Regions from separate parts of the Homo sapiens genome. Here region 2 is reported to be linked to region 1. The links are microRNA targets in miRTarBase. Many come from high-throughput screens and were not tested one by one. Region 1 holds a microRNA gene; the other region holds the end of a gene's coding sequence.

Evidence for each region. Region 1 holds the annotated microRNA hsa-miR-7515 (AGAAGGGAAGAUGGUGAC, at 2,735-2,752, shown strand). A microRNA usually pairs through its seed, bases 2 to 8, with sites in the 3' UTR of a target mRNA and lowers its output. Matches are read on the target gene's strand: a 7mer-m8 pairs with bases 2 to 8, a 7mer-A1 pairs with bases 2 to 7 and ends in A, and an 8mer does both.
Region 2: miRTarBase lists ARL10 as a target of hsa-miR-7515. Seed matches in the 3' UTR shown: 7mer-m8 at 856-862.

What each region holds. Positions count from the first base shown.
Region 1 is chr2:6,647,684-6,652,860 of GRCh38, forward strand. MIR7515 (microRNA 7515) reads left to right here and starts at 2,690; the gene lies at 2,690-2,756. LINC03156 (long intergenic non-protein coding RNA 3156) reads right to left here and starts at 2,836. Exons shown (of 2, transcript NR_110497.1): 1 at 2,423-2,836; 2 at 1,424-1,698.
Region 2 is chr5:176,371,312-176,376,311 of GRCh38, forward strand. ARL10 (ARF like GTPase 10) reads left to right here. Exons shown (of 4, transcript NM_173664.6): 4 at 411-5,000. The coding sequence ends at 584. Among named protein-coding and RNA genes, the nearest start is that of MIR1271, 5.9 kb to the left of the region's middle.

The DNA.
Region 1 (5,177 bases):
ATCCTATAACTGTCACTTTACTTATGCCATGCAACAACCTAAAGAAAGGAAGAAAACGTCTAGCAGCAGAACCGCGACTTTCTAGTACCCAGAGCTGGCGCAGGGGAGGTCAGAGCCAGATGGGGGGCATGGCTCATCCTGGCCCCAGAATCCAGTCTTGGGGAAGCATGTAAACAGGGAGGCTGCAGAAAGACACTATCTGTGCAAGCGGGCAGTGTACCTGTGTCCACAGCACAGGCAGCACGTGAGAGCAGAGCCCCCCAAAAAGAGCGCTGCCCATGGAGGGCTGTGAGCAGATGGACTCTAATGACACCATCCCGTTTCCAAGGTTGAACCCTATGGGAGGACAGACTCTTGCAGCCCATAAAGATCAAGTCATCTGACCAATAAATAAATAAATAAATAAAAGGGAAAAAAAAAAAAACCAAGATGGAAACCTAGATCCACAACGGGAAAGTGACTTGTGCAGGGAACCTGTGGTGCCCAGTGTGGGTGGCAACTCTTCCCTCATCCATGCAGCTTGGCCCTACCTTGATCATCGTCCTTTTTAGCATGAATTTATCAATTGCCCAGTATTTTCAATGGACTATAGAGGGTACAGAGAAAAGAAAAGTGAGAAATGGCATCTATATTCAAAAGATGCTGCAGAGACAGCTCCCCACGCCCAGCCTGCCTTGAGAAAAAGAAGCCACAAGAAAACTCATGCTTACAGCACAGACTAGGTGTTGAAGGCAGGTGGTGCAGAAACTTAGGAGGAGCGGCACTGAAGACTAAGGAGGTCCAGAGACCATAGAAAAGTTATTGGGAGAAGGAAGGACTTGAGCCGGTATTTGAGGAACATTGTTAAGGTCTAGACTGACAGATTAAGGGAGGAAGATCACCTCGGACAAACAGCCGACAGGAGTCTCTGCCCCTTGGAAGCAGCTCTAGCAGGCTGTTGTGTAATGGAAATGCTGACTTTCACTTATACAGTACATTTCTATAAAATTATCAATACGAGAAGCTGTCTAAAAAGGAGTGAGGTATTTTTTCATCAGTGAAGAGGCTGGTTGCATGTGCTATTTCTTCCTAGAAAGCAGGAACTGGGTCCAGAATTGGTCTGGCTTCAGAAAACAAAAAAGCCGTTGCCAAGTCTAGGGTTTGTACAGCTCTCCAGTGGAGTTATGAAAAGCCCGGTTAGAACATAAAGAACGGTCTGTTCTGTGGGAGGCAATACAGCTTCACCGAGGGGAGAGGGAAAGTAAGCCTGTATCAGTCATATTTCCATCCCTGGGAGACCATTAGGAGAAATTCAATTAAAACCCATGACTTCTACCAAATCTCTATGGCCAGTTTGAAGAGACTAATTCTTAGAAAAAGCTGACTCCAGCATTATCTGTCTTTAGCTGAGCTGTTATGAAAAGAATATAAGAGTAACAAAAAAAATGGTATGTGCTTTTATTAAAACAAAACATAACAACAACATAATGCTGTTGCAGAAACTTGGAGATGCTGCAAATGTAGGTCTGTTCTGCTTGTTGGCTTTACCTCTCTCTCGTTCCTTCCTTCTTCCTCCTCATTCTTCATCTTTCTTCCTCATTCTAAGCAGAACATTTACAAAATTCAGGCTTTCTGTAGGGTGAAGAGCTGAGCTTCAGTTCTTCTCTGGGGCAGAATATTAGCAAGGACAGTGAGCTTAGTTTTGACTGATTCTGGCATCTTCACAAAGCAAAAACCAAAGTATTGACGTAAGAAAACTGGATTGGGAGTTGGGAAAGGTTATGACTTAATGATAAAGGAATTAAAGAGACACATTGGCATTATTTTTTTCTCCTGACACCTGCACAATGCCAAAAGATAAATCAGAACAGAAAACATTAAAATTGGAAAGGAACTTAGAGACCACCTAGTCAAGGGATGACAGATTCCACAGCCAGTACCATCTCTAAGGTATTGGCATTGATAATCGCTTCTCTCTGGAACTTTGTGTTGAGTAGGATTCTGAGGCTCAAGTTAAACTCACCAGGATTGACTCTTCTGATCAGAGAGCAATGCCTAGTCTTAGAGAACAGAAGAGGCAGGGTCCGCATCTGGTATTAGCATTCTTTATTTAGTTCAACAAAGTCACATGGAGACAATATGTTACATCCTGACTTTAAACATTAGTTCAGAGAAGAAAAGTTGCTGAGATCCCTGCTGCAGTTATCCACGACTACATAACAAACCACTACCAAACTTTGCGTCCTAACAACAGTGATTTATTATTTTGCACAGCCTTGTGGATAATGAGCTTAGGGTGCAGGTTGGGGAGACTGGTGGTTCTCACATGATAACTCAGAGCTCCCAAGAAAGCAAATGTGGAAGCATCTAGACCTCTTAAGGCCCTGTCTAGAATTGTCTGGGCAGCATTTTCATCACATTCCACTGGTAAAGGTGTTCTTACCTTGTATGTGCCTGCAGGGATGAGAGAATTTTGGCCATCTTTGCAGATAATCCACCACAGTCCCTCCATGCTGCCTTCATGCAGCAGGTAGGTGAGTACTCCACAGGCTTTGCCACCCAGAACAGGGAAGCCAAACTGTCAATCTCAAGTCCCTAATCTGTGACCTGCTTATAATTCTTACTCCACAGTTATCATGGTGAAGACCAACGAGATGATGAACATGTAGCACATATCTGTATCACGAGAATTCCACGAGAAGAGCTCAAACTTTTATCATTTCATTTATGCCTGTTAGCATGAAAAAAGAGGCTGAGAAGGGAAGATGGTGACAAGGAATTGCTAAGCAGCAGGTCACATGGGTCACCCAGCGTGGACCGGCCTGAACACAGCTTCCATGTCCCCACTCTTGCCAATGTTCTCATGTGGACACAGCTGGCTTTGTTACATCAGAATGAAGGCCTCCCTTATGATGGCTCAGTGTTTCCATAGAAATGTCCAAGGAACATGATTATAGAGTCAGTCCATTCATTAACACAGAGGGTTAGGGGTTGGGAAAATCATCTAATCCAACAGCCTTATTTTGAAAATGAAGTTTCCAAGCCCTAGACGTTCATGGAAGCTCATGAAAGGCTCCTAATCACAGTGCCCTTTCCGCGGTAACATGGGCTCCTTATTTAGTTCCATTCAGAAAACCTGAAGAGAGGCCTCCCTGGCCAACGGTAGTGGGGATTAGAAGCAGTCCGTTTCTGTTAATATTTATATTCTATTTTAATAAAGCCTGGCTTCTTACAATCAAGTGCAACCTAATTTGTCCAGAGCCGACACTCCCGAGTGTACAGAATCCCCATTTGATTTTGCTGTTTGGAACGTTATCCACTCAATGGTTTCTCTAAACAACAGTGAAAGTCCCCATCCACCATGAACCTGCAGAGCATAACTGGATATTTTCTGGCCAGTTGGCTCATTGCCTACAGCAGAAATCTTCAAGCAGAAGCTACTGAAACAAGGACACTAATTTGCTAAGCCAGGAAGTTTTTCAAAGTCCATGATCCAGAAACACCAAAAATAGAAAAACCAACACAAAAATAAACAAATAGAAAAGTGGCCCATGCCTGTAATCCCAGCACTTTGTGAAGCCAAGGTGGGTAGATCACCTGAGGTCAGGAGTTTGAGGCTAGCTTGGTCAACATGGTGAAACCCTGTCTCTACTAAAAATATTTAAAAAATTAGCCAGGCGTGGTGGCGGGTGCCTGTAATCCCAGATACTCAGGAGACTGAGGCAGGAGAATTTCTCAAACCCGGGAGGCAGAGGTTGCAATGAGCCCAGATGGTGCCACTGCACGCCAGCCTGGGCATCAAGAGCGAGACTCCATCTCAAAAAAAAAAAAAAAAAAAAAAAAAGCCAGAGATTTTCTTAGATAAGTATGTGGAAGGATCCCAACATCTAAATGTTTCTACATCATGAGATGAAAGGAAATTAATGATGATCTCTTTTTTTTTCTTTTTTTTTTTTTTTCCAGATGAAGTCTTGCTCTTGTTCCCCAGGCTGGAGTGCAATGCTGCCATCTCGGCTCACCACAACCTCCGCCTCCTGGGTTCAAGCAATTCTCCTACCTCAGCCTCCCGAGTAGCTGGGATTACAGGTGTCCGCCACCACGCCCAGCTAATTTTTGTATTTTTAGTAGAGACAGGGTTTCATCTTGTTGGCCAGGCTGGTCTCGAACTCCTGACCTCAGGTGATCTGCCCGCCTCGGCCTCCCAAAGTGCTAGGATTACAGGTGTGAGCCACCGTGCCCAGCTGATGATCTCTTTATAGTAATTTCTGACATACGTATATCTTCAGGGTTGACATACAGATTATGCTTTTCATTCACACAACTTTCAGGTTAAGTCTGACTGGTGTTACTACCCACACACCATAGAGGAGGAAAGGTAGGCTCAAAAAAACTGACTTGCCCAAAACAAGTTAGATGGTGGGACACAAGATAGAAAGTGGGGAAGTCAAGACTGAAGCACCCACCTCCTGGCTCCATCACAGCCATGTGTGCTGATATCTGGGCAGCTAAACGTAGAGTGCTGGAGCCCACATGGGGTGTATGGCTGGGGAATTTTAGCTTTACTCTCATTTCTAGCATCTATGTTGGAAAAGCATTTTGTGTTTTATGCTTTTATTGTATATTCAGCCAGTCAAGAGTCATAGTCTATTTCATTCAGGCTTATGCCACTCACTAATGTCAGTAGAAGCCTATTCGTTTCTTAGAAATTGTAGTGGAAGATGTAGAAAGTACACTTGTCAAATTTGGGCATGATTCATCTGTGAGAGGAACCTTGTGCATGCAAACTCAGTAACAGCGTTCACAAAAATCTGGACAGGCTTGAAAGACAGGCTGAAAATAACATTGCAGCAGGAGGAAATGTAATGGTATGAACCTGAATTCAGAAGGCAACTGCCTAAAGGTGGACTAAATAGGTTTAATAGAAATTGCTTTAAAAACAACCAGGAAGGATGGTTAGCATTAGTTAGCTTTGCAGTCTGCATGAGCTTATGGTATGAAGGGTGAGTCAGAAGGTTATAGCCCCTTAAGCCACAGTAAGAGAGTTTGGGTGTTCTGAATGAGGGGGACACATCTGCTTTCTCACTGTTGGATGCAGCAGCGCTTTTGACTCATTTGTGCAGAAGAAAGCCCTGGGAACTGAGCTGTATTTGAAGAATGAACGAAGGATCTGTTAACATTTAGCCCAAAGAAGAAAGGAT
Region 2 (5,000 bases), not on the chromosome of region 1:
GGTGGAGGTTGCAGTGAGCCAAGATCGTGCCACTGCACTCCAGCCTGGGTGACAGAGCAAAACTCCGTCTCAAAACAGTGGCTAATGATGCAATGAAAAGAGGTTGGTACAAAGGAGAGCCCAGGGTGAGGGAGAGAGCATTGAGTTTAGGCCAAGGGGTCCAGAGGCTACTTCTGGGAACTTGGGGCCTGATATTCCCGGGGATAGCCTAAGAACAGTGTGTTTCCTGATATTCCCGGGGATAGCCTAAGAACAGTGTGTTTCCTGATATTCCCGGGGATAGCCTAAGAACAGTGTGTTTCCTGATATTCCCGGGGATAGCCTAAGAACAGTGTGTTTCATGAACGACAAGGGTGTCAGTGTGTTAGGAAATGCTGCCAGCTGTGTTCGGACTTCTGTGTCTCACCCAGGACCTGAGCGAGGCCATGAGTATGGGGGAGCTGCAGCGGGAGCTGGGTCTACAGGCTATCGATAACCAGCGGGAGGTTTTCCTCTTGGCAGCCAGCATTGCCCCTGCAGGACCCACCTTTGAAGAGCCTGGCACCGTGCACATCTGGAAACTGCTCTTGGAGCTCCTCTCCTAGGCTGGAGCTCTCCTGCTTGCCACCTGCCTGTCAAGACCATAGTTGTACTGCTGCTGCTTCATTGCCAGACTGGGCCTGGGGCAAGAGCCACATGGCAGCATTTCCCTTTTCCCCTCCTTTGCCTTTCAAGAGCAGGGCCTGGGCAAGGCCAAGAACCATGCAGAAGCCTTCCTGGTGAGGTGGCCGTGAAGCCGAAGCAGGGAGGTGGGTGAGACAGAGGGTGGGGAGGATAGTGTCTGGCTCATTCCAGGCTGGAATGTGGATCCAGCTTTCCCTTCTCTTACCTGTACAGTGAGATGCTCAGTGGGCTCAATCCTCCACTACAGGTCCCGGTACCTGAGGAACCAGTGTAGGTGTCAGAAATACTCCTAGAGCCTCAAGGTCTCCCAGTCCAGAAACAGTCTGGTGACGTCATGCCCTTCTCATGTGGGCAGCTTCTGAGTGGTGACACAGCAAGCCTTTGTTCCTGTCCTGCATTGTCCAGCCCCAGCTCCACCTAAGTGACTTGTGGCCTTGTGCAATCTCTGCCTCTCTGACCCCAGGGCCATTATTTTTAAAGGGAGGTGGTTTCCTAATTCGGAGATGCCTTTCCCAGCCATGGGAGTGTGAAGTGCTAGGATGAACCTGGCCATCCTAGCAAGGAGCTTTCTGAAGACCTCCCTGCCTTTCCCTGAGCCCAGGCCTGGCCTGCCAGCCTCTCTTGACTACAGAATAACTGATATTCACCCACCAAACAGAAAAAGTGAAGGCTGGGTTTTTCCCCTCTAATCTGGAGACAAGCTGCTGCTCTCGTACTAACTGTGCCAGTGCCCATGTTTACAGAAGTCAGGGGAAGGAAGGAGCCTGTGTCCCTGGGACGACAGTCAACTGGAGCTAGGTGTTGACCTCAGAACTGCATTTTATTTATTAATTTATAAGCAGAACAGGCCAGAGTTCTAGGCTCTGTTTCTAGGTGCTGTTTTCAAAACCCCAGATGACAGTCATAGAAAATTTGGAACTTAGGAAAATAGCTGGAATCATGAATGACAATGAGATAACATACAGATGTCAGTGGAGACAAAGTTGTGGGTTCCTCCTCCCACCTGGCTTTGAGGCTGTCGTCGATATCATAGTACTTTACATGGATTCACATGAACTGAAACGCCACCACTTGGCCCAGGATGTTGAAAGGGTGCAAATTCCTTCTGGGTAGATAAGAAATGACTCTGGGAGAGGATTTCCCTTATGTGAATCTAGGTAAAAAGATGGAAAAAAATTGTATTATGTGATCCTAAGGACAGGAATAGCAGACCAGCCAACGGGATGGCCTTGGGTACATCACTCAGCCTTTCTGGACCCAATTTTTCCCCAGTGAAAGCCAAGTTGGACTGAATTTCTGGAGTTCTCATCAGTGCACATTCCATAGTTCTCCAGTGCTTGGCGATCAGCCCAATTGAAGGACTGGCTCTGTACTGACACTTATTATCGGTACAGGCAAAGAGGAGCCTGTTGTCTGTTAGGGACCACTAAATCAACAACCACAAATGGATTTTTTTTTTAAGAGGAGCTGTGCACCTCAATTTGCTGTCTAGTTGAGAATAGAGATTGTGTGCCTTCATTTCATTTGACATTTACCCAGCATGCCTCAGTTCCACACCGTGACCAGTGTAAGAAGAGGAACTATGATAAAAACAGTTCAACAAGCCGCAAGGAGGGTGGGAAATTCTGAAGTCCAGAAGCGAGTGTGATCTTTGGAATAGTGGCTGCTGTGCCCTTGGGCGCCATTTGAAGAATCACTGTTCTTGAAAGTGCTGGTTCACTTTCTGCAGTAAGAAGTGATTTATGGGCTTTTATGTAAAATTTTAAGAATGACTTGGGTTTCAGAGTAGCCTTTGAAACTTTGCTGGCAGCTTTTCATTTTGTCATTGGAAGGCTAAGAGACTTTTCTCCTTTGTTCTATGAACTCCTTGTTCTTCAGGGCTTGAAGGCAAAAAAACCTTAGACAACTTTAACGAAGTTTAAAAAGTATGTTCTGTTTTTGAGCAGAAAAAAGATTCGTGAACTGGTTAGTACTTAGCACCAAAAGCAGTTCAGAATGCTCAGCCCCACAATGTGTGTAGGCTACATTTATAGCCAGAGAAACGAAAATAACTTAGGTTGCCTGATTGGCTGCAGTCTGGCATTTGCCTTACCTGAACATGTTTTAGCAGCCTTCAGCCGACGATTGACTGAAGGTTTGGCTGCTGTGATTGGCTAAAATTCGGCTACTTGTTAGAAGAACATACTTTTAGGTTAGGTTACGAGTTGTTTACACGTTAAGTTACAATTCACTGTGTACAGAGGCAGCTTTAGGCCAGACTTAATTCAGCTTCACAGTGTCCCTCATTTTGCTCAGCCCCTTAATTTTGAGAGATTGACCAAAATCCCACGCACTGACACTACCTTCTGTCACTATTTGACCTCATTATGGAACTCACAGTTTACAATGTTAAATCAGTTAGCGGATTCTGTATGTCTTCATGTTTCTGTTACTCTAACCGTAATGAGACCATTTGAGGTACAAAGGATGACTGCATTGGTGTACTTAAGACTACAACACATCAGTGGGGACCTTAGGATGGCTATCAGGAGTGTAATACCAAGAAACTGGAATGCATCCCTTAATATGAGTCTCCACAAACCAAACTGATTGGAATCAAACAACTCAAGTTCAGACGATAAAAATAGTTCAACAGCGTGCAAGCTCTGCTGCTCATAGCCTGTTCAGGGTATAATGGCAATTAAGGACATAGTTCACTATGAAGTACCTTAATTGTAAAGTGTTTGATTTTTTAGTTAGCTTTTGGTAACACAAGTCATGGTGATTGGGATACCCACTAAAAGAAACATGAAGATTAGAAAACCTTGAACAGCTAAGCTTGCTGTCTACCATTCAGGATGCCTGCAAACCAACCACTAGCTGCTCCTGCAAACACATTATGTGTTCCTTTTCCCTGAGAAATATCCTTGATGTGTTTGGTGGCAGTATCTACAGAAGCGGCAGCCACCACCGCCTTTTGAAGCTCTCCATAGTAGTAGAATCAGGAAAGATAAGCACAGCGTTCAGTTTTGTTCAGCACCATACACAAGCTCCTAGCTGGGCAAAGGAAATCTAAAGCTGCATGAAGTTCCATTACGTGTTTTTGTTGAACACAGGTGGCCTCATCCATCCATCCATCCATCCATCCATCCATCCCTCCATCCGTCCACCCGTCCACCCGTCCACCCATCCACCCACCCACCCATCCATCCACCCACCCACCCACCCATCCACCCATCCATCCATCCATCCACTCATCCACCCATCCACCCATCCATCCATCCATCCATCCATCCTTCCATCCATCCACCCATCCACCCATCCATCCATCCACCCATCCATCCATCCATCCATCCATCCATCCATCCATCCATCCATCCATCATCCACCCATCCATCCATCCATCCATCCATCTGTGGCTTCTACCTGTGCGAATCTCTGTGCTACAAAATTCTTTTCAATTTAGCATTAACTTTAATTTCCATACAGTTGGCACCTCACTGCCGCCAAAAGTGAGTCCGCAGGAACTCCACTGGAATATTTGCTCAGGGGAAACTAACTAATCATCTGTTTCAAGGTTGGTATTCATTTTAGTCTTTGACCTCTGATTATGGGGACTTTCAGGGAAAGCTGTTTGCAAGGTGAGCATGAATCAGGTGAAACAGCAAGATCTGAAGTCAGGACAGAGTAAGCAAATTATCCACAGACCTAATATGTACCCTCTGAAGCTGGAAAGTGGGGGCCACCTGGTAGCATTTGAGCAGGGGTCACTTATGTTCCCCCATAAGTCTGCACAGCTCCTAAACAAGGTCCAGTGGGCAACTTATTTTTATGTGGTCCCTTTATAGCATGCTGTAAGGGTGCATAACCACAGCCAGTGAGAAGGAACCCTACTGGATTTAACCCAGTGACATTATATAAGCAATCGCTTGGAGCCACATAGGTAGTTCCCAGGTCCTGAATATGTGGTGCCTGAAAGCATAGGTGTAGGCAGTGTTCCTTGCATAGGCATTACCTGGACAGGTTTTTTTCCATATTGGCACTTATTAATTGAAAAGGTCAGGGTACCACTTCCAATGAGTGTAGGGAAGCAAGCAGTAGTGGTGTTTAGAATATCAAGGTTAGCTGCTGGATGCGGTGGCTCACGCCTGTAATCCCAGCACTCTGGGAGGCTGAGGTGGACGGATCACGAGGTCAGGAGATCGAGACAATCCTGGCTAACACAGTGAAACCCTGTCTCTACTATAAAATACAAAAAATCAGCTGGGTGTGACGGCATGCGCCTGTAGTCCCACCTACTAGGGAGGCTGAGGCATGAGAATCACTTAAACTTGGGAGGCAGAGGTTGCAGTGAGCTG